Homo sapiens: one gene and its partners. Each later gene encodes a partner of the first gene's protein in a complex. Links are inferred from orthologs where the notes say so. Each region holds a gene or a part of one and is shown in the gene's direction. Other genes may lie near its edges.

What was found.
Region 2: the proteins of DLG4 (region 1) and CRIPT are in contact, whole or in part, in a crystal structure (PDB 5HED), measured with the Rattus norvegicus proteins. The link is inferred for Homo sapiens from one-to-one orthologs. Residues at the interface, in NP_062567.1 of Rattus norvegicus: Gly322, Leu323, Gly324, Phe325, Asn326, Ile327, Val328, Gly329, Gly330, Glu331, Asp332, Glu334, Ser339, His372, Glu373, Ala376, Leu379, Lys380, Arg399, Phe400; in NP_063972.1 of Rattus norvegicus: Lys94, Asn95, Tyr96, Lys97, Gln98, Ser100, Val101.
Region 3: DLG4 (region 1) and SHISA6 share a complex: the UniProt entries of both Homo sapiens proteins name them as parts of the postsynaptic hippocampal AMPA-type glutamate receptor (AMPAR) complex.

Annotation. Positions count from the first base shown.
Region 1 is NC_000017.11:7,207,512-7,214,627, reverse strand, and holds part of DLG4 (disks large homolog 4), read left to right. Parts: intron 1-6,388; coding exon 6,389-6,454; intron 6,455-7,116. UniProt on the Homo sapiens protein: Postsynaptic scaffolding protein that plays a critical role in synaptogenesis and synaptic plasticity by providing a platform for the postsynaptic clustering of crucial synaptic proteins.
Region 2 is NC_000002.12:46,627,210-46,630,787, forward strand, and holds the end of CRIPT (cysteine-rich PDZ-binding protein), read left to right. Parts: 3' UTR 1-2,967; downstream 2,968-3,578. UniProt on the Homo sapiens protein: As a component of the minor spliceosome, involved in the splicing of U12-type introns in pre-mRNAs. Involved in the cytoskeletal anchoring of DLG4 in excitatory synapses.
Region 3 is NC_000017.11:11,236,391-11,244,240, forward strand, and holds the start of SHISA6 (protein shisa-6 isoform 1 precursor), read left to right. Parts: upstream 1-4,822; 5' UTR 4,823-5,032; coding exon 5,033-5,670; intron 5,671-7,850. UniProt on the Homo sapiens protein: Involved in maintenance of high-frequency synaptic transmission at hippocampal CA3-CA1 synapses.

The DNA of each region.
Region 1 (7,116 bases):
GTGGGGGAAAGACTGAGGCTATTTGCCAGAGCCCCAGGAGCGAAGCGGTTAAACCCTCCGGGTGGTCCTTATTGGGCAAAGCCGAGATGCCGGGGGCGGGGCAGTGTGGCCGACGGCCTCATTCATTGGCCGTCAGGGGCGTGGCGGAGGGACAGTGTGGGCGAGGCAGGGGGAGCGAACGGGCGGGAAGTGGACGGAGGCGTGGCCTCCCGGGCAGGTGGGTGGGGTCTGGCTTACTCTATCGAGGGAGGCAGCAACCTTCGGAAAGGGGAGGAACCTTGGGGCTGGGTTACCTGACCGAAATGAGGGCGGGGCTGACCTGGGATGGGCGTGGCGTGGCCCCCCGTGCGTAAAGGAGACAGGGTTTGAGGAGCTATTGTCCAAGTAACTTCAGGGCGCGGGGGTCTTTGGAAAGGAGAATCCGGGGGTTGGGAAGTCTGACGTCTCAATTTTCCTAAGATGGAGGTCTGTTCAGATTTCATCAGAGCACCCCTCCTACCTCAGCTCTGTGTTCCCAGGAGACGGTTGCTAGGCGACGGCAAAGTCCTTGATTGCTGCGTTGCCAGGCAACAGAGAAACGGAAAATGGAGGGAAAAGGGAAATGGGGGATGGGGAAGGGTCTTTATGGGCCATGGCGCCCACTGGTGGATAAGCAGGGCCTGCAGGTTTTCTATTCTAGAAGGAAATTTGAGTCCAGCCCCTTCCGCACTGACTCCTTGGATCCTCTGGTGATCCAAGCCTTCCTACCAGATATGAAACTAGGACATTGGGGGTCATCTTGGGGGCGCATGTAACAGATGCCGATCAACGGGGTCAATCTCGCTTGGGTGAGATTCTAGGGAAGTCGTCATTTCTACCATGTATGGGCATTTTATAGAAGTCAGCCGATTTGAGGAGACCCCTCACTGGGTTTTAAGAGCTGGAAGGGTGGGCGTTCAATGGGAGAATATTTGGAAGAGAGGCTTTCAGGTTAAGTTGTTTGGGAGAAAATGGAAATCTCTGAAGAGACCTGAAGGAGGCGGTTGGGAGTGTTCTGGACGATTTGTGGGTCATTGCAGATTGCCGGCCGTATCTTTGGTGTGTATTTTTTGAGGCCTGAGTGTGGAGAAGATATATTTGGGAGCAATCTTCCGACAAAGTTGGAATTCAGAATCGTGGAGGGGATGTTCTGGGCAGACAGAAAAGGGTGTAATCTATGAACCTCAGGGGTAAAGAAAAGGAGAGGAGGTGCCGGGTGCGGTGGCTCACACCTGTAATCCCAGCACTTTGGGAGCCCGAGGCGCGCGGATCATGTGAGGTCACGAGTTCGAGACCAGCCTGGCCAACATGGCGATACCCCGTCTCTACTAAAAATACAAAAAAATTAGCCGGGCGTAGTGGCGGGCGCCTGTAATGCCAGATATCCGGGAGGTTGAGGTAGGAGAATCACTCGAACCCGGGAGCCGGATGTTGCAGTAAGCCGAGATCGCGCCATTGCACTCCAGCATGAGCAACAGAGCGAGAATCTGTCTCAAAAAAAAAAAAAAAAAAAAGAAAGAAAGAAAGAAAAGAAAAGGAAAAGGAAAATACTTTTAATTAATTAATTATTAATTTTTGAGACCGAGTCTCACTCTGTCGCCTAGGCTAGAGTGCAGTGGCACGATCTCGGCTCACTGCAATCTCTGCTGCCCAGATTCAAGCCATCCTCCTGCCTCAGCCTCCCTAGTAGCTAGGATTACAGGCGCCTGCCACCGCGCCCGGCTAATTTTTGTAGTTTTAGTAGAGATGGGGTTTCACCATCTTGGCCAGGCTGGTCTGGAACGCCTGACCTCATGATCCAACCGCCTCGGCCTCCCAAAGTGCTGGGATTACAGGTGTGAGCCACCGTGCCAGGCCAAAATTTTTTTTTTTAGAGATGGGATCTCACTATGTTGCCCAAGCTGGTGTTGGGCACCTGGCCTCCAGCGATCTTCCCGTCTACATTTCTTTTTATAAGAGTTTTGGAAAAAATTGACGAGATTGCTATTTAATTTGGAGGGTCTGCTTTAAAGTAGATTAAATATTTCCTGAAATTGGGTTCTGGTGTGGATTTGGAGACTGGCATATTAGGAAGTCATGAGTATCTTATTAGATTCGGGGGTTTGGACAGGGGATCCCCAACAAATTAGAGGACTTGTTATTTGGATGTTTATATTAGAGCAAGAGTAATATTTGCACTAATTGCAACATCCCTGTTAGTGGATTGGGAGATAGATGTGATATAGAAAGGGATGATTTAGCATATATTAATTTGGGGGGCCAACAAGGCTCTGTGGTTCCTTAAACTCTTGAAGAAACATGGGCTGCCTATCAGGTGGGGCTGGACTGCAGGGGAGAACTATGCTGGTTAGAGTAGGAGATGCCTTGGAATCTGAGGAGATGCTATCCACAGCACCAATCTTGCGGGGGTTTGGTGGGAGAGGCAGTGTAGATCCCTTGGGGGTTCTTGTGAGAGAAGTGCTGTTTGTTTCCCTGGACTCTGGGAGGCCAGTAGTGACGAGATGTCCAGTGAGGTTTTGGAATGGTTTGGGGTCTCGCGATGTTGGGGTTGGGGGATTAGATGGGATGGAATAAGGGGTCCCTGAGAACTAGAGAGATAAACTGGTAAATTTAAGTCTGTCTTTAATTGTAGAGGGGTCGGAATAGAAGTATACTGTGGAAAGTGAAGTTCACAGAGAAACAGCGTGAACCAGGGAAGTTGGTGGCTAAGAGGGTCTCCCCTCACCCCTCTCTCCCAACGTGACGCTCTTCCTTACTGCGCAGGCGCCGTCACCCCCCCCCCCCCCCCGCCGCAGCCTCCAGTTGCCGCGGCCGCCGCAGCCCCCGCCCCTCTGCCCCTCCCCCTCCCCCAACCCCCGGGACCCTTGATATCCCACCTACCCCCTTCCCTCAGTCCCCCTCCCCTTCTCCATGTCGGCTCGGAACAGATTCGCCTCCATGTGTCTCTGCGTGGTACGTGCCGCGGTATGGGCTCCGGCCCGCTCCCCCTTCCCGGACCCCCGCAAATATCAGGGTGCAAGCTTCAAGCGCTGTCGCTCTTCCTTCTGCTTGGTGCGGGGTCTCTGGGTTGCAACTTCTCGTGGACAGGCGCCGTGGGTCGCCCCTCTTATCATTCACTTTGACTCACACCCCTATGTTTTGGGGGTGCAAGCCTCAGTTCCAGGTCATTCTGTGCAACTGGGGCTCTGGTGAGGAGGGGGCCAAAGGGGAAGGAACAACAGCGACTCCGTCCGTGTCCCCCATTCCCCAGGCCTTTTACTTGTTTTAAGCCCTAATATATTGGGGGTGCAGATATGTCCCAGTAGCATCTGAGTTGTCTGGGTTAGGGCCCTGAGTCCCAGTAGGATAAAGGATGGGGGGGGTCCTCCTTTCCCGTCCTGCTTTAGTTGCCCTGTAATCCAAGACTGAGAGGTGCTGATCCCCCACCGCCCCAGCCCCCCAGTCTGCAGTTTCAGAATTACTCTCCCCCGCCCCCACCCCCACCCCTCCCGACGTTTCTCCCCGCCCCCCTACATGTACGTCGAAAATTTCCAGAGACTGAACCTAGTCCCTAACCTCTTCCAGCCACATTCTGGAAACCCTGGCACCCATTTCTTGTTCCCCATTTTCTCCATGTTGCCTCCCAATCCTGAGGAGCCTTTTCTTCAGTGCCAGACACCACCCTCCCTCCATGGGGGTGGGGCAGGGAGAGGTATTGGGGGCTCGCTGAGATAAAAGTTTACCTTCATTTCCTCCCTAGAATAAATGATGAAATGGCCCTCCTCATGTTTCCATTTTCTTTGGGTGCACGCTGACATTTCCTCCTCAGATTCAGGAATTTTCTCTCTGAGGTGGAGTGAAGATGGAGAGGCACTGGACTCAAACCCTCCCCCAGACTCCAAAACTTGGAGCTTTGGTCCTAATTTACCTTGCAGGGAATTGGAGGCCTTGTGAAGGAAGAGTGGATAGCGGAGAGCGGCTTCCACCCCTTCCCCCAGGTCTCAATTCTGGGGCTTGCCCCTCAGCTTGTGCACTGCCCAGGTAGAAGACCACCTTCTCAGGATGTGGAATGAACAGTCTCTGTTGGTTCATAGAACTCCTTTATTCAAGACAGCTCAGCCTTGGAGGAGGGCTATTTTGTGTGTTCTCCTATTTTCCTTCTCTACTTTTTGTGCCCATCGGATTGAAATCTGGAGTTCAGGATTCTCTCCAAGTCTGTGGCCCAGAGAATAGACTCAATCTTGCTGAGCCCGTTTTCCTTCTTTAAGACTCTTTAAATGTATCAGGGTGCTTCTTGATTTGAGTTGTCTCTGTGTTCTGGGTTTGAGAGTTTTCGTGCTGACAGGACCACTTCCCTTCTCCCATTCTCTTACTGTACCCTTACTCTACAGCCAAAGTTGTGTTATATTCTCAGCCTTGATTCATCATCTTTAACATTTTCAGAATCCTACTCAAGGATTGGCCATTGACCTTGATAAGCTTCCTCCCATTTGATCTCGCAGCTGCTGCCCTCTAAGTATTAGGGCACTCTCAGCCTCTCAGAAACTTTTGGGAGGGAAATTCTGCTCGCCCTCTCTCTTTTTTGTTTTGGAGATGGAGTCTCACTCTGTCGCCAGGCTAGAGTGCAGTGGCATGATCTCGGCTCACTGCAACCTCCGCTTCCCAGGTTCAAGCAATTCTCCTGCCTCAGCCTCCCATGTAGCTAGGATTACAGCCATGTGCCACCACGCCCAGCTAATTTTTGTATTTTTAGTAGAGATGGGATTTCACCATGTTGGCCAGGCTGGTCTCTGACCTCAGGTGATGTACCCACCTCGGCATTATAAGCATCAGCCACTGCTCCTGGCCTCTCTCTCTTTTTGAGACAGGGTCTTACTCTGTTGCCCAGGCTGGAGTGCGGTGGCGTGATCATGGCTCACTGCAGCCTCCACCTCTTGGGCTCAAGCAATCCTCCCACCTCAGCCTCCTTAGCAGTTGGGACTACAGGTGTGCACCACCATGCCTGGCTAATTTTTGTATTTTTTGTAGACAGGGTTTCACTGTGTTGCCCAGGCTGGTCTCCAACTCCAGCTCCTGGGCTCAAGCTGTCTGCCTGCCTCAGCCTCCCAAAGTGCTGGGATTGCCGTGCCTTCTCTTTTTACCCATGTGTACTGGGCGGTGCATTCTGTCTTCTTCAGTTCCTGAGGGATCCCTGCGTATGATACCTTCCCCTTCCTGAACCTGGAGCTTGGAGGGTCAGTCTCTGTGGAGGCCCGTTCCAGAGGAGAGGAGCAGGCGAGGGCAGAGGCGGACACGGAAGGACCCAGGCAGAAACGCTGTCTTCTTCTGCTGTCTCCATCTGCCCTTTTCCTCCTTCTCTGGCCCCCAGTTAATCTCATTTTACTGTTGTCCCTATTAAGCTAGCACAGGAGGCCCTTGGGATGGCAGCTGATTAACTGGGCAGGGAGTCAGGGGTCATGTTGGGCCTTTCACCCCAAAAGAGCAGAGGGAGACCAGAAATTCACTCTGAGGCTCAGCATGCTACCCTCCTCCCCAACCAGGGAGGCTGGCACCCATTCTTGCCCCTGTCCTGAGCCCTGCTGTCTCTGTTCTTCCCCTTCCTCCCCCAGCCCATGCCCTTATAGCATAACCGGATTAGCTGGCTGGGCTGTGGGCTGTTGCAGGGGTAGGGCCAGACTCCCGGGGCCCCTCTGTTGACTGCTTGGAAACCAGCAAGGGCAGTGAACTGGACAGGCTTAGCCTTGTCCTGTCTCGGGGGCTGATACCAAGTACCTTCTGGTGGAAGGGGTGACTTCAGTCCTTGCCTAAGGAGTGCAAGGTAAAGGAGAGCCAATCACCTGTGGGGTAGAGGCTGCAATGGGGAGACTGAGGCCATGGAGGTGGGGCGCGGGGAGGATGCCATGCAGAGTAGGAGCAGCCAGAGGGGTAGGGGAGGGGAGGCTAGAACAAGAGTGAGTCTGAGATGGTGAGAGAAGCAAGGAAGTTGGGGACTGGAGGCAGAGAATGGAGATGTGAGTGTCGGGGCTAGAGCTCTGAGAAGCTGGAGGGACTCGAAGATGAAGGTGGTGGGGAAAGGGGTGAAGACACAGATGCCAGAGGGGCTATGCCCACCAGAAGGCCAGTGTCCCAGGATGTGAGGAGTAGGAGTTGGGGGATGGGATTGGGACCTGGGGATTGATGAGAGGTGCTGAGGCCCTGGCGGGAGAGGGGGCTGTTGGGAGAGTGGAGAGAGGGGAGCCAATGGGCTAGAGGAGAGGGAGGGGGAGGAGCTGGTCAGGCCCCAGGGCCTTCCGCACTGCACTGGCTGGGGGAAGAGGCGGCGGCCAGGGCGGCCAGCCTGGAGCCTGAGGCACCGGGCTGGCCCCAGTGACACCTCCGTCCCCATCCCCAGAAATACCGCTACCAAGATGAAGACACGCCCCCTCTGGAGCACAGCCCGGCCCACCTCCCCAACCAGGTAAACGCCCCCGAGCTGGTGCACGTGGCGGAGAGGAACTTGTCCCACCTCGAGGCTGGCCACGGGGTCGTGGGCCACGCCCACCTCTCCCCCTTCAAGGTAGGAGACCCTGGTGGCCCCCTCCCCAGTGCGGCCCTCGGAGCCTCGGAGCTGCAGCAATCCCTAAGGGCCGGTAGGGTGAGAGAGAGCCGTGGGGAGGGGGATGCTGGGACTGGGGGCGGGGGTTTGGGGCTTGGGCTCCTGGGGTCTGGGGGAGGGGGCGTTTGTGGGGCTGGAAACACCTTGGTCCCACAGAGGAGAAACAGGCCAGGCCAATGGGAGTGGATGTAAAGCCTAAAGCAAGAATGTGTGTGTGCGCGCGTGCCTGTGCGCGTGTGCTGTGTGTGTGCCTGTGCGTGTGTGCATGCATGCGTGCCTGTGTGTGTGCTGTGTGTGTGTGTGCGTGCGTGCGCCGTTTGTGTGCCTGTGCGTGTGCTGTATGCGTGTGTGTTGAGGTGTGTGCATCCCCCAAGAGGCCCCCACGCCTGGGACCTCTTCATTCCTTCACACCCCCAACCTCCATTTCCATTTTCTGTGTCCAGAGCTCTGTTCCAAGCGCCTGCTGCCCTCATTTGCTCTTGTCCCTTCCCCGCCTCCTCCCCCTACCTCCGCCTCTGGGCCTG
Region 2 (3,578 bases), on another chromosome or scaffold:
CAGTTTGTGAATATTCTCTCCCATTCTGTAGGTTGTCTGTTTACTGTATTGATAGTTCCTTTTGCGGTGCAGAAGCTCTTTAGTTTGATTAGGTTCCACTTGTCAATTTTTGTTTTTGTTGCAATTGCTTTTGAGGACTTAGCCGTAAGTTCTTTCCCATAGCTGATGTCCAGATGTTATTTCGTAGGTTTTCTTCTAGGACTCTTATAGCTTGAAGTCTTACATTTAAATCTTTTTTTTTTTTTTTCCCCAAAGACAGAGTCTCCTTCTGTTGCCCAGGCTGGAGTACAGTGGTACAATCTTGGCTCACCACAACCTCCACCTCCCAGGCTCAAGCGATTCTCATGCCTCAGCCTCCCAACCTAACTGGGATTACAGGCACATGCCACCACGCCTGGCTAATTTTTCTATTTTTAGTAGGAATGGGGTTTTACCATGTTGGCCAGGCTGGTCTTGAATTCCGAGCCTCAAGTGATCCACCCACCTCAGTCTCCCAAAGTGCTGGGATTACAGGCATGAGCCACTGCACCCGGCCCCTTATATTTAAATCTTTAATCTATCTTGAGGTAATTTTATATATATGGTGAAAGGGGTCCAGTTTGAGTCTTCTGCATATGGCTAGACAGCTGTTCCAGCACCATTTATTGAATTAGGGAATCCTTTCTCTGTTGCTTATTTTTGTTAACTTTGTCAAAGGTCAGATGGCTGTAGGTGTGTAGCTTTATTTCTGTCTGTTCCATTCCATTGGTCTATGGGTCTGTTTTTATATCTGTACCATGCTGTTTTGGTTACTGTAGCTTCCTTATAGTATAGTTTAACTCAGGTAATGTGATACCTCAGCTTTGTTTTATTTGCTTAGGATTGATTTTTTGGTTCCATATGAATTTTAGAATGGATTTTTTCTTTTTTTTTTTTTTTGAGACGGAGTCTTGCTGTGTCTCCCAGGCTCTGAGTGCAGCTGTGCAATCTCAGCTCACTGCAACCTCTGCCTCCTGAGTTCAAGCAATTCTCCTGCCTCAGCCTCCCAAATAGCTGGGATTACAGGAGCCCGCCAACCATGCCCAGCTAATTTATGTAATTTTAGTAGAGATGGGGTTTCATCATCTTAGCCAGGCTGGTCTTGAACTCCTGACGTTGTGATCCACCCGCCTCAGCCTCCCAAAGTGCTGGGATTACAGGCGTGAGCCACTGGACCCGGCAGGATTTTTCTAATTCTGTGAAAAATGATGTTTGTAGTTTGATAGGAATAGCATTGAATCTGTGGATTGCTTTGGGCAGTATGGCCATTTTAATGATATTGATTCTTCTAGCTCATGAGCTTGGAATGTTTTTCCATTTGTTTGTGTCATCTCTGATTTCTTTCAGCGTGTTTTGTAGTTCTTGTCCAGCTCACATTTTATCTTCATACTTTGAGTAGCCTCCTTCCATGAATGGATCATCCAGTGGCCGCACTTAGGTTCTCCTATGAAGATTTTTGTTGTATTGTACCTCAGAACCATCTCCATATTCTCTAAATAATAATAATGATGGTCATAAATTGAATAGAAGTATTTACTAGATGAGGAGGAAAACCCTAAAACAAAACATGAACATAAAATATTTTTAAAAGGAAGACATACAAACAGACACTATAACCAAATAAGATGACAGAATTAAGGCCTTATGCCACAGCCAGAGTTGAAAAATGCAGAAAAAAAGTTTAAAAACAAGGAATTAAAGCCAAACCTAACTTTTATCAAAATAAATGTAAAAGTGATGAAAGAATCTGTTAAGATATCAGATTGTAATATAAAAGATACTAGAAACAAATGCCAATAGAACACTTAAGTACATTTTATATATTCATCCATTAGAATATATAGCTGTCAGAATGATAGAAGAATTACATATGTGTGCAAAAGTTTTTGTATCCATGTGGAAAACACAGGAAGCTAATAGTACTGTTTTTCTCTGGAGTGGGTGTAAGGGTAGAGACTTAACTCTTTACATCCTTATGGCAGCCTTCGAATACCTTTTAACTCCCAGTTCCCTTAACTGGGGGTGTGTATCCTAGAATCCTCGACCCATTAGAAAGTATATTGTAGACATCATACTCTTTACCCTTTAACACTACACATGCACTTCATAAGAACAAGCATGCTGTCTTACCCAAGTACAGCTATCAAGTTCAGAAATTTAACATTGCCATAATACTTTACAGTCCATATTTCAATTTCATTTGCTGTTTTATTGGTAATTTTTTTCAGCTCCACGATCCAGCCTAGGATCATATGTTGTATTGCCATAACCCTCTAATCTGGAGCAGTTCCTCAGCTTTTCTTTGTTTTTTATAATAGTAATATATTTGAAAAATACAGGACAGCTAAAGGATAGAGTATCCTTCTATTTGGGTTTTTCTGATGTTTCCTCATGGTTAGATTGGGGTAGTGCAGTGAGGGTTGAAATGCTGTAAGTGATATGTATTGCAGGTATACATCCAGATGCACAGAATGTCCATTTGTCCCTTATTGGTGATGCTAATTTTGATCACTTGGGTAAGATGTCCAGTTTCTCCAGTGTATCGTTATTGTTTTTCCTTTTGCAATTAGTGGGTAATTTGTGAGGAGAAACTTTGAGACCTTGTTGACAATTCTGTTCCTCATCAAATCTACCCCTCCTAGGTTTAGCATCCTTTGACGATTCTTGTCTGAATAAATTTTTACTAGGATGTTTCCAAAATTGTGATTGTTCTAACTCTATTATTATTTCTGTATTAATTAGTCATCATTCTACTGTAAGGAAGAGGTTTCCCTTTATCATCAACTTCGAGTAAGTACTTTTTTCTGAGCCATTTGAATATTCCTTACTAGATGTGGTGCCTCTTTACCCCAATTACTTAAGTTTGTATTTCCAAAGAACAAGGGTGTTTTCCTGCATAGCCATAGCACAATTACCAAAATCAGAAAATTAACATTAATACTTTACTATTATCAAATCTTTTTCATATTTTGCTAATTGTTTCAGTAATATGCAAAAAAAAAAAAAAGTCTGATCTGGATCCACTCTGGAGTAACATTACATTTAGTTGTCATGTCTGTAGTCTCATTTATTCTGGAGCAGTTCTTCAGCCAGTCTTTCAAAATGCCAAGGTTATGGGCCAGTTGTATTTTTTTTTTTAATTTCAACTTTTATTTTAGACTCAGGGAGTATATGTGCAAGTTTGTTACATGGGTATATTGCGTGATGCTGAGGTTTGGGGCACCATTGATCCCGACACCCAGGTAGTGAGCATAGTACCCAATAGGTAGTTTTCCAACCCTTGCACCTTCCCTCCCTCCCTCCTCTAGTAGTCCTCAGTGTCTATTGTTCCCAACCCGTAGACTTTTTATAGAGTAACTCTTAATCTGGGTTTTTCTGGTATTTCTTGATGATTAGACTGAGCTTATACATTTTTGGCGGGGATACCACAGAAATGGCATTGTTCTTTTCAGTGCACCGTATCATGGTGTCAGTTGTCCCATTACAAGGATGTTAATTTTGATCACTTGTATTAGGTGATATCTGCTATATTACTCTACTGTAAAGTTTCTAATTTTTTA
Region 3 (7,850 bases), 4.0 Mb from region 1:
CTTTGGATTCAGACAGGCTTCAATAAAAGGAAACTTAATTATCTCACGTTACTGGAAGACCAGAGATGGGAAGGCCCTGAGCATACCTCTTTGAGTGGCCCAATGATGTTCTGTCCATCTTTTCAGCTGGCACCCTCAGTGTATCAGTCAGGGTGGGCTAGGATACGCTGCAATAATAGGCCTCAATTCCAGTGGCTTTAAAAAGCAGATACATAGAGAGATGGATAGATATTAATAGATAGAGATATAGATAGATATTTATAGATAGAAATATTTATTTTTTTTATATTTATATCTCTATGTACTATCTATCTATCTATTGATCTATATTTACTCATGCTACATGCCCATCGTGGGACACTATTTTTATTAGCTATCAGGCATTCCTCACTATAGTCACCTAAGTACTCACACTGACAAAAACCACTCCCATATAGAACATCGCTGATCACCATGCCAGAAGAAAATGAAAATTCTAGAGTGTCTTGCAGCAGCAATTAGATGCTCTGTTTCAAAAATAACACACATCATTTCTGCTCACAACTCATTGACTGATACTAGTCACTTTCCCCTCCTACTCACAAGTGGGCTAGGAATTGCAATTCTACTACATGCCTGGGAGGCAGAGATATTTGGTAAGCAGTGCTAACAACTATAAAATTGAGGCCGGATGCGGTGGCTCAAGCCTGTAATCCCAACACTTTGGGAGGCCAAGGCGGGTGGATCACCTGAGATCAGGAGTTCAAGACCAGCCTAGCCAATATGGTGAAACCCAGTCTCTACTAAAAATGCAAAACTTAGCCAGGCTCGGTGGCTGGTGTCTGTAATCCCAGCTACTAGGGAGGCTGAGGCAAGAGAATCGCCTGAACCTGGGAGACGGAGGTTGCAGTGAGCTGAGATCACGCCACTGCATTCCAGCCTGAGCAACAGAGTAAGACCTTGTCTCAAGAAAAAAAAGAAAAGAAGATCAACTTCAACTCTTAGCTGGTGCCCCAACCCCAAGGTAACAACATCCAGAGAAATAACACCAAAAAAAGAAGAAGAAAGAAGAAAGAAGGAAGGAGAAGGAGAAGGAGAAGAAGGAGAAGAAGAGAAGGAGAAGGAGGAGAAGGAGAAGGAGGAGAAGAAAGAAGAAGAAAGAAGAAGAAAGAAGAAGAAAAGAAGAAGAGAAAAGAAGAAGAAGAGGAAGAAGAAGAAGAAGAAGAAGAAGAAGAAGAAGAAGAAGAAGAAGAAGAAGAAGGAATTATCACTATTTTTAAGAGCAAGAAAATTTCCCCAGAAACCCCCTGCAAACTTCTCTCACTTAGTATTGGCTAGAACTGGATCATATGTCCCTTCTTAATCCCTGTGAAGGGGAAAAAGATTTATTATGTCTAGCTCAACCCAATCAGCATTTGCCTTCATTTGCCTTCTACAACCAGGGACTGGGTCACTCTCCCCTGAACCTCAGGACTGTCTGAAGTTGGTGGAGGTGTTGGAAGAGATGATTCTTCTCTGGTACTTTTTATTGAGTCAAATCCACAAAGAAAGAGCACTTTAATACTGTCAACAATTCAGGCGCTCAAACTAGAAGGAGAAAAGAGAAATGTATGGTGGTAACCAAGCAACCTTTTCTACTACAAAGGGCAAACCAGGAGGGCTGGAAATGTCAATAAGAAATACAGTGTACTGCAGCAAGAGTTGGGATATATAACCCCTAAGATCTTACACAACCCTGAGATGCTATTATTTCCATGAGTGTTGATGCCACCACTTATGAGCACAGGGGTTCAGGATACATTTATAGGTGGTGGTGGTCTGAGAAACCAAATCAGTTTCCCCTACTTAATGCCGCTGAACAAATCATTAGAGTCTGATGTGAGGAGGACACATTTCTCCTATCCATCATTAAGGGGCTCTCAGACATGGAAAAGCAAATTCTGGAATAATGAAGGGATGGTGAAGGCTCATGGAAGAGACAAAGAAGGGAATAGCTTAGAAATTGCACAGAGTGTAAAGGTAAATATATAAGGCTGTTGTCTTCAAATATGTTCTTATGATTCCCAAATGTATATGCCTGTCTTATCTTCTCTTCTGAGCTTGCAATTCTTGTGCAGGACAGCTCCACTTAGTTCTCTCAAAGGAACCACAACACGACTATTGCTAACTCTGTCCTGAACCTGCTTTTTCAGCCATGCTTATTTCCACTGTGGGCATCAACTCCCAGTAATCTACTGCATCCCTTCATCATTTTTTACCTGTATTATCAGGACAGCTTCCAAATTGCTTTTCCTGCGTCCAGTCCAGTGTTCCCTACTCCATTTGACTCAGAGATCCAGCAAACATGTAAAACTGACAGTGTCTTCTCCTGATTAAAACCCACCAACAGTTCCCCAGCAATTGTAGAATAAATTCAAGTTCTTTGCAAGGGAGGATTCAATACCCTCCTGCTAGCCTTATTTGGAAGACTCCCTCAGGGTTCACGCTAAACTGCTTGCATCCCTGCTCACACACCTTAACCACTTCCTGTCTTTCTGGTTCTGCTAAGGATGTTCCCTCTGCTGGGAGCCTCCTTCCCCTCTTGCTTGCTGTATTAACTCGTAATCCATTCTTCAAGATTCTGCTCTACCTCATTGAGAAAGCTACATTTGACCCCCATCTGTCCCCTTGCAGGCCTAGGCTGGGTGCCTGTCTTCTGCTCTCAGAGCACCCTGCCCGCCTTTATCATGAGACGTAACCTTGCCATGTGGAAATCATTTGTTTATCTGTCTCCCTAATGGTCTACAAGGTCCCCCTCCTTGAGGAAAGGGACTCTCTTATTCATTCTGCTGGCAGGGAGTAGGCACTAAACAAATGTTTGTTGGACAGAATCTTTAAGAAGAAGGTGGCAACTGAGAAGTTAAGGGAACGGGAGGAAGTGCAGAGGAAGAGGGAGGGAATGGAGACAGTAGCAAGTGGGGAGCTGCGGGGATAGTCTGTGCACCGCCCCCCACCCCACCCCCTAGTCAATATCAGGATCTCCCTCTTGTGTCTTGGAGTCTGAGTTCGAGCTCTAATATATCCATTCCACGGTTCCCAAAAGAGGAACTCTTCTGTTCCTGGATAGGGATCCCTTGTTTAGGTCACACATGAGTGGGACTGAACAGAAAGTCTCAGGGAAAATTCTCTACCGCCCTCGCTCTGACAGCCTGTTCCCTGCCTTCAGTTCCCTGCCTTCAACCAAAGCACGCTGGTCACGCAGGCAGAATCTTGGCCTTGGCCATCGCTTTTTGTTCTCAGTTCCCCCTACCTCCTCCAAGGACACACGCCAAGGATGGTACTATGATTCTCTTTTGGGATGGCCTCGTAGCTGTGAAAGTTAGACTCAGGCCTCCTTTCCACAGACCCAGACACGCAACTACCCCGGAAAGCACCCCCGCCCTGCACCCCCATCCTCCTCACCTCCCATAGGAGCTGCAGCACAGAGATTTCAACACAGGGGTTACAAAGCTGAGTCTCAGAGGTTCAGATAGCTTTCTAATGGCCTCGAGGCTCCGCGGGGAAAAAAAAAAGTATAGCAAAGAGTTGCCATCCAGTCCTGGGGCTGTCTAGCGCCTTTATGCGTAGTGGGTACGGGGTTGGGGAAAGAGTGACCAAGGGGAAGAGAGTGTAGGCTCAGCTCACGGGTCGCCCAACAGCCTCAGACAAGCCACTTGACCCCTGGACTCAGTTTGGGAACCTGTAGCAATGGGTTTGACCTCTTCTCCTGGCTGCGAGTATCACCACTAGGGAGAGGCAAAGGCTTGCAGAAACCCCAACTCCCGCTCAGGCAGCGCGCTGCCCCGGGCTCCGGTAGGGTGGGGACTGGTCGCGAAGGCTAGAGAAGGCAATGGCAGGGGAGGTCAGTCCCTGCCGCGGGCCGGCTGCAGAGCGGACGTTCCGCCCTGCTCCCGGCCCCCTCTTCGCCCGCCGGGTTCGCCGTGTCGAATAACTGCTGTCCGGAGCTTTCGTGACGCGGAGCTTCAACTGCTGCGATCCGGAAGAAGCGAAAAGGAGTCCCCCCCGCCCCGCACCCTGAGCGCCCGGGCGTGCAAACGTGGGTGGCGGAGAGCGGCTGCCCTCCCCTCCCCTGTCCCCCCTCCCCTCGCGGCGCTCCCGTGTGTGCGGGTGTGTGAGTGCGTGTGTCTCCCTCGCTCACTCTCGCACACGTTCCGGCACTAGTGCAGGCGGCGAGCCGGCGGCTCTCCGCTCGCTCGCTCCGGCAGCTGCGTTCCCGCCTCGCCCCGCCGCCGCCGCCGCCGCCGCCGCCGCCGCCTCTGCAGTCGCAGCCGGGCATGGTGAGTGAGTGAGGTCCAGCCGCCGCGCGCTCTCCCGGCTCGCCGCCGGACCCCAGCCTCAACCGGCTCCGTCCCAGGGAGCCAGCCTGCGGCGGGAGCGCGCTGCGGGGCCGGGCGGCTGGGGGACCCGGGCGGCCGAGCTGCGCCTGGAGGGGCGGCCCGTGCGCTCTCGGTTCCAGGCGCGCAGGGCCGCGGGACCCCGTCTTGGGAGCGGGCTCTACGCCCCTCCCGGCTCCGAGTCTCTCTCCTCGAGGGCTGCGCGCACCCTCCCCGCCCGCCTGCCCGCGGTTCTCCTCCTGCTCCCGGAGCGCCAGTCGCCCCACCCCGTGACCGGCTCCCCGTCTTGTCCCGCAGGACCCGCCCGGACGGGACCACGCCGCCGCCGCCGCCGCCGCCGCCCGGAGCCGCGCTTCGGGTCCTGCCTGAGCCGAGCCGCGCGCGGGGCCGCAGTCACCGCCGGCGGGGGATGGGGCTGCCCAGGAGGCGCGCCGAGCCCGCAGGGGGAGCGCGGAGCCGGCGCGCAGCCTGAGAGCCCGAGCAGCCCGCGCCGGGCCGGTCCGTGCGCACCGCGCGCCGCCGCCGCCACTGCCGCCCGCGCCTCGATGGCGCCATCGCCCCGGAGCCGCTGACCGCTCAGCGCCTCCAGCCCGGCCCGCGCGGCGGGTCCTCCGAGCCCGGCCCGCCGGGGGAGCGGCCTGCCGCGGAAGCCTCCCCGCGCCCTCCCGCCCGGCCCCGCCATGGCGCTGCGGCGCCTCCTGCTGCTGCTGCTGCTCTCGCTGGAGTCCCTGGACCTGCTGCCCAGCGTCCACGGAGCCCGCGGCCGCGCCGCCAACCGGACCCTGAGTGCAGGCGGCGCTGCCGTCGGGGGCCGGAGGGCCGGGGGCGCCCTGGCACGGGGCGGCCGCGAGCTGAACGGCACCGCCCGGGCGCCCGGAATCCCGGAGGCGGGAAGCCGGCGGGGGCAGCCCGCGGCGGCTGTGGCGGCGGCGGCCAGCGCGGCCGTCACCTACGAGACGTGCTGGGGCTACTACGACGTGAGCGGCCAGTACGACAAGGAGTTCGAGTGTAACAACAGCGAGAGCGGCTACCTGTACTGCTGCGGTACCTGCTACTACCGCTTCTGCTGCAAGAAGCGCCACGAGAAGCTGGACCAGCGCCAGTGCACCAACTACCAGAGCCCGGTGTGGGTACAGACGCCCAGCACCAAGGTGGTGTCGCCGGGGCCCGAGAACAAGTACGACCCGGAGAAGGACAAGACCAACTTCACCGTCTACATCACCTGCGGGGTGATCGCCTTCGTCATCGTGGCCGGCGTCTTCGCCAAGGTCTCCTACGACAAGGCCCACCGCCCTCCACGGGAGATGAACATCCACAGGTGAGAGCGCCGCGTGCCGCGCGCCCCGGTCTCCCCGCGGCCTCACCCTCTCAGCTTGCTTCCCCTGTCCTCTTCACTCTCGGCATCATCACACCTCCCCAGGCCCTCTAGTCATTTCCACCATCGCTCCTTTTGCATGCAATAAATCAGGGTCTTCTTGTGCCCCCTCCTCCATTTCTTCAGAACCGGGAATGCATGCTTTGGTGGTAGGGGGATTTACAAGGCAGAGTAAGAATTGGTTGAGTGCATGAAGTTCCAAGTGTAAGAATGTTACAAATTCTGTAATCGTGGATGAGGATCCAGGGTTCTGCTTTCCTGGCATGAGGGCACTTTGGTGTAGGTTCTTAATGGCATTTAGTTTTTTGAGTCAAATCAGAGTGTCATCTTCAATATAGGAAACTGACCAATGTTGGAACCTTACTGAAAGCGGTACCAAGTGGCTTAGGGTCAACTGAGATGTTCTCGTACATTAGGAATTGGGGTTTTATAGAAAGGATGCCTCCTGCCGGAAGTAGGGATAAAGATTTCTCCATTCCATGTTGACCAAGCACAGATGGTGTCTCCTCATTGCATCCTGCGGAGTGGGATGTTTATCTTTCCTGCTGAGACTAGAGGACTCGTTCTTTGAAACCCTGTAGGCAGAACTCTGAGTTAACAGTACTCGCCTGTGTTAAACCTGGTGGGGCATCTTTCACTGCTTACGTTCGAAAGACAGTGGGAGCTGCCTCCTACCAAAACTTACGCCAAGAGCTCAAACTATGGCAGTCCCTGGTTGCACGCTGAATGCTGCCCCGACGCACCATCTTGCCCCCCAGTGAGCCCTTGGGGAAGTCAAAGCCAAGGGGATGACAGAAACCCAGCCTCCCCTTAGAACTCTAGGAATGACACACCCAGAGGATGCAGAGTTAGCTCGGCTTCCTGTCCCCTCATGTTGATGGATGGCTGGACATGGTGCAAGAGTCCTCTCAGGGAACAAACCCTGCCCCGGGAGATGCCTCCATTTCTGTTGCATGGTGTGGGCACTGCCCTAGTCACCATGAGCACCCCCCAGACCACTGCTTGTCAGTCAGTCCTGCAGGCCCCCACACTGACCCATTCACCTTGAGCTCTTCTCTGCGTCCTGCTTGTTATTCTTACCACCTGAAAACCGCCTTCCTCGCTGCTGTGCACATTAATCACCCCTGCCTTGCTGAAGAGAGAGAAAGGCAGATAGAAATTTCTAGGCATGTTAAAAGAGCTGATTTTTTTTTTCTGCTTGATACTGTGGGTGTTGAGAGAAATGATACTCCCTGGAAGGTTTTATTGAGTCAAATCCACAAAGGGTGGGTACCTCAAACTCGCGTGCTGGAATTGGAGTGATTCCAAAAGGAGACCCTTTTATAAGGCTCTGTCACCCTGAGGTGCCTCCACCCTGTCTTCCACTTGCACCTCATGTCTCAGATAGTGCAGTAAGTATCCTCTTGTGTGAGAAACAGCCTGTGGTCAGTCTTGGCTCTCAAATGCAGAAGACAAGTGGGACGGTGAGCAAAATAAAGGCAAGAGACAGTTTCTTTTGCATCTTGTCTGGCAAAGAATTTTCTGTCTCGGCTCAGTGTGGAAAGAAAAGAAGGAATTGCCCGTGGGCAGGTGCTGTCCTGAAGCAGATGTGCTGGTCCTTATCATCCTTACACCTCTGCCTCAAGACTTGGAGGCTTGTCTCCTCTTCCCCTTCCCCTGTGGCCTTGGCCTCTCATTAAACCTTCTGCTCTGACCACAGCCGCTTGCTCGTTGATTCCTACACATCTTTCTTTAAGTTACTTTCTTTCTGAGCCATTGTTCTCTGTACTCAGGGAAAACTGCCTGCTGCCCTGACCCTTCCACCTCACACAGTTTATTCGTCATCGCCTGGGATGATACAGAGGGCGGTGTCCTCAAATGCTGGCAGCAGGCATCTTTGGATGCTGGCATTGGCACGTGACCCTGGAGAGGTCACTGTCCCTCTTGGTGTTTTCTCCCCTTCCCACCACCCTGATGCCCCTTACGCCAAACTAGGGTGAAGGTGATTACGGCATTGGGGCAGCTTCTCTCTGGGGTTGGGGAAGCAGAGTAACCACGGGAAGGGAGATGAATTTCAGGCCTCAGAGCTTTATGCAAATATGGGATGTTTCCCCCTCAAGTTCACCACCTGATTTTATTCAGTT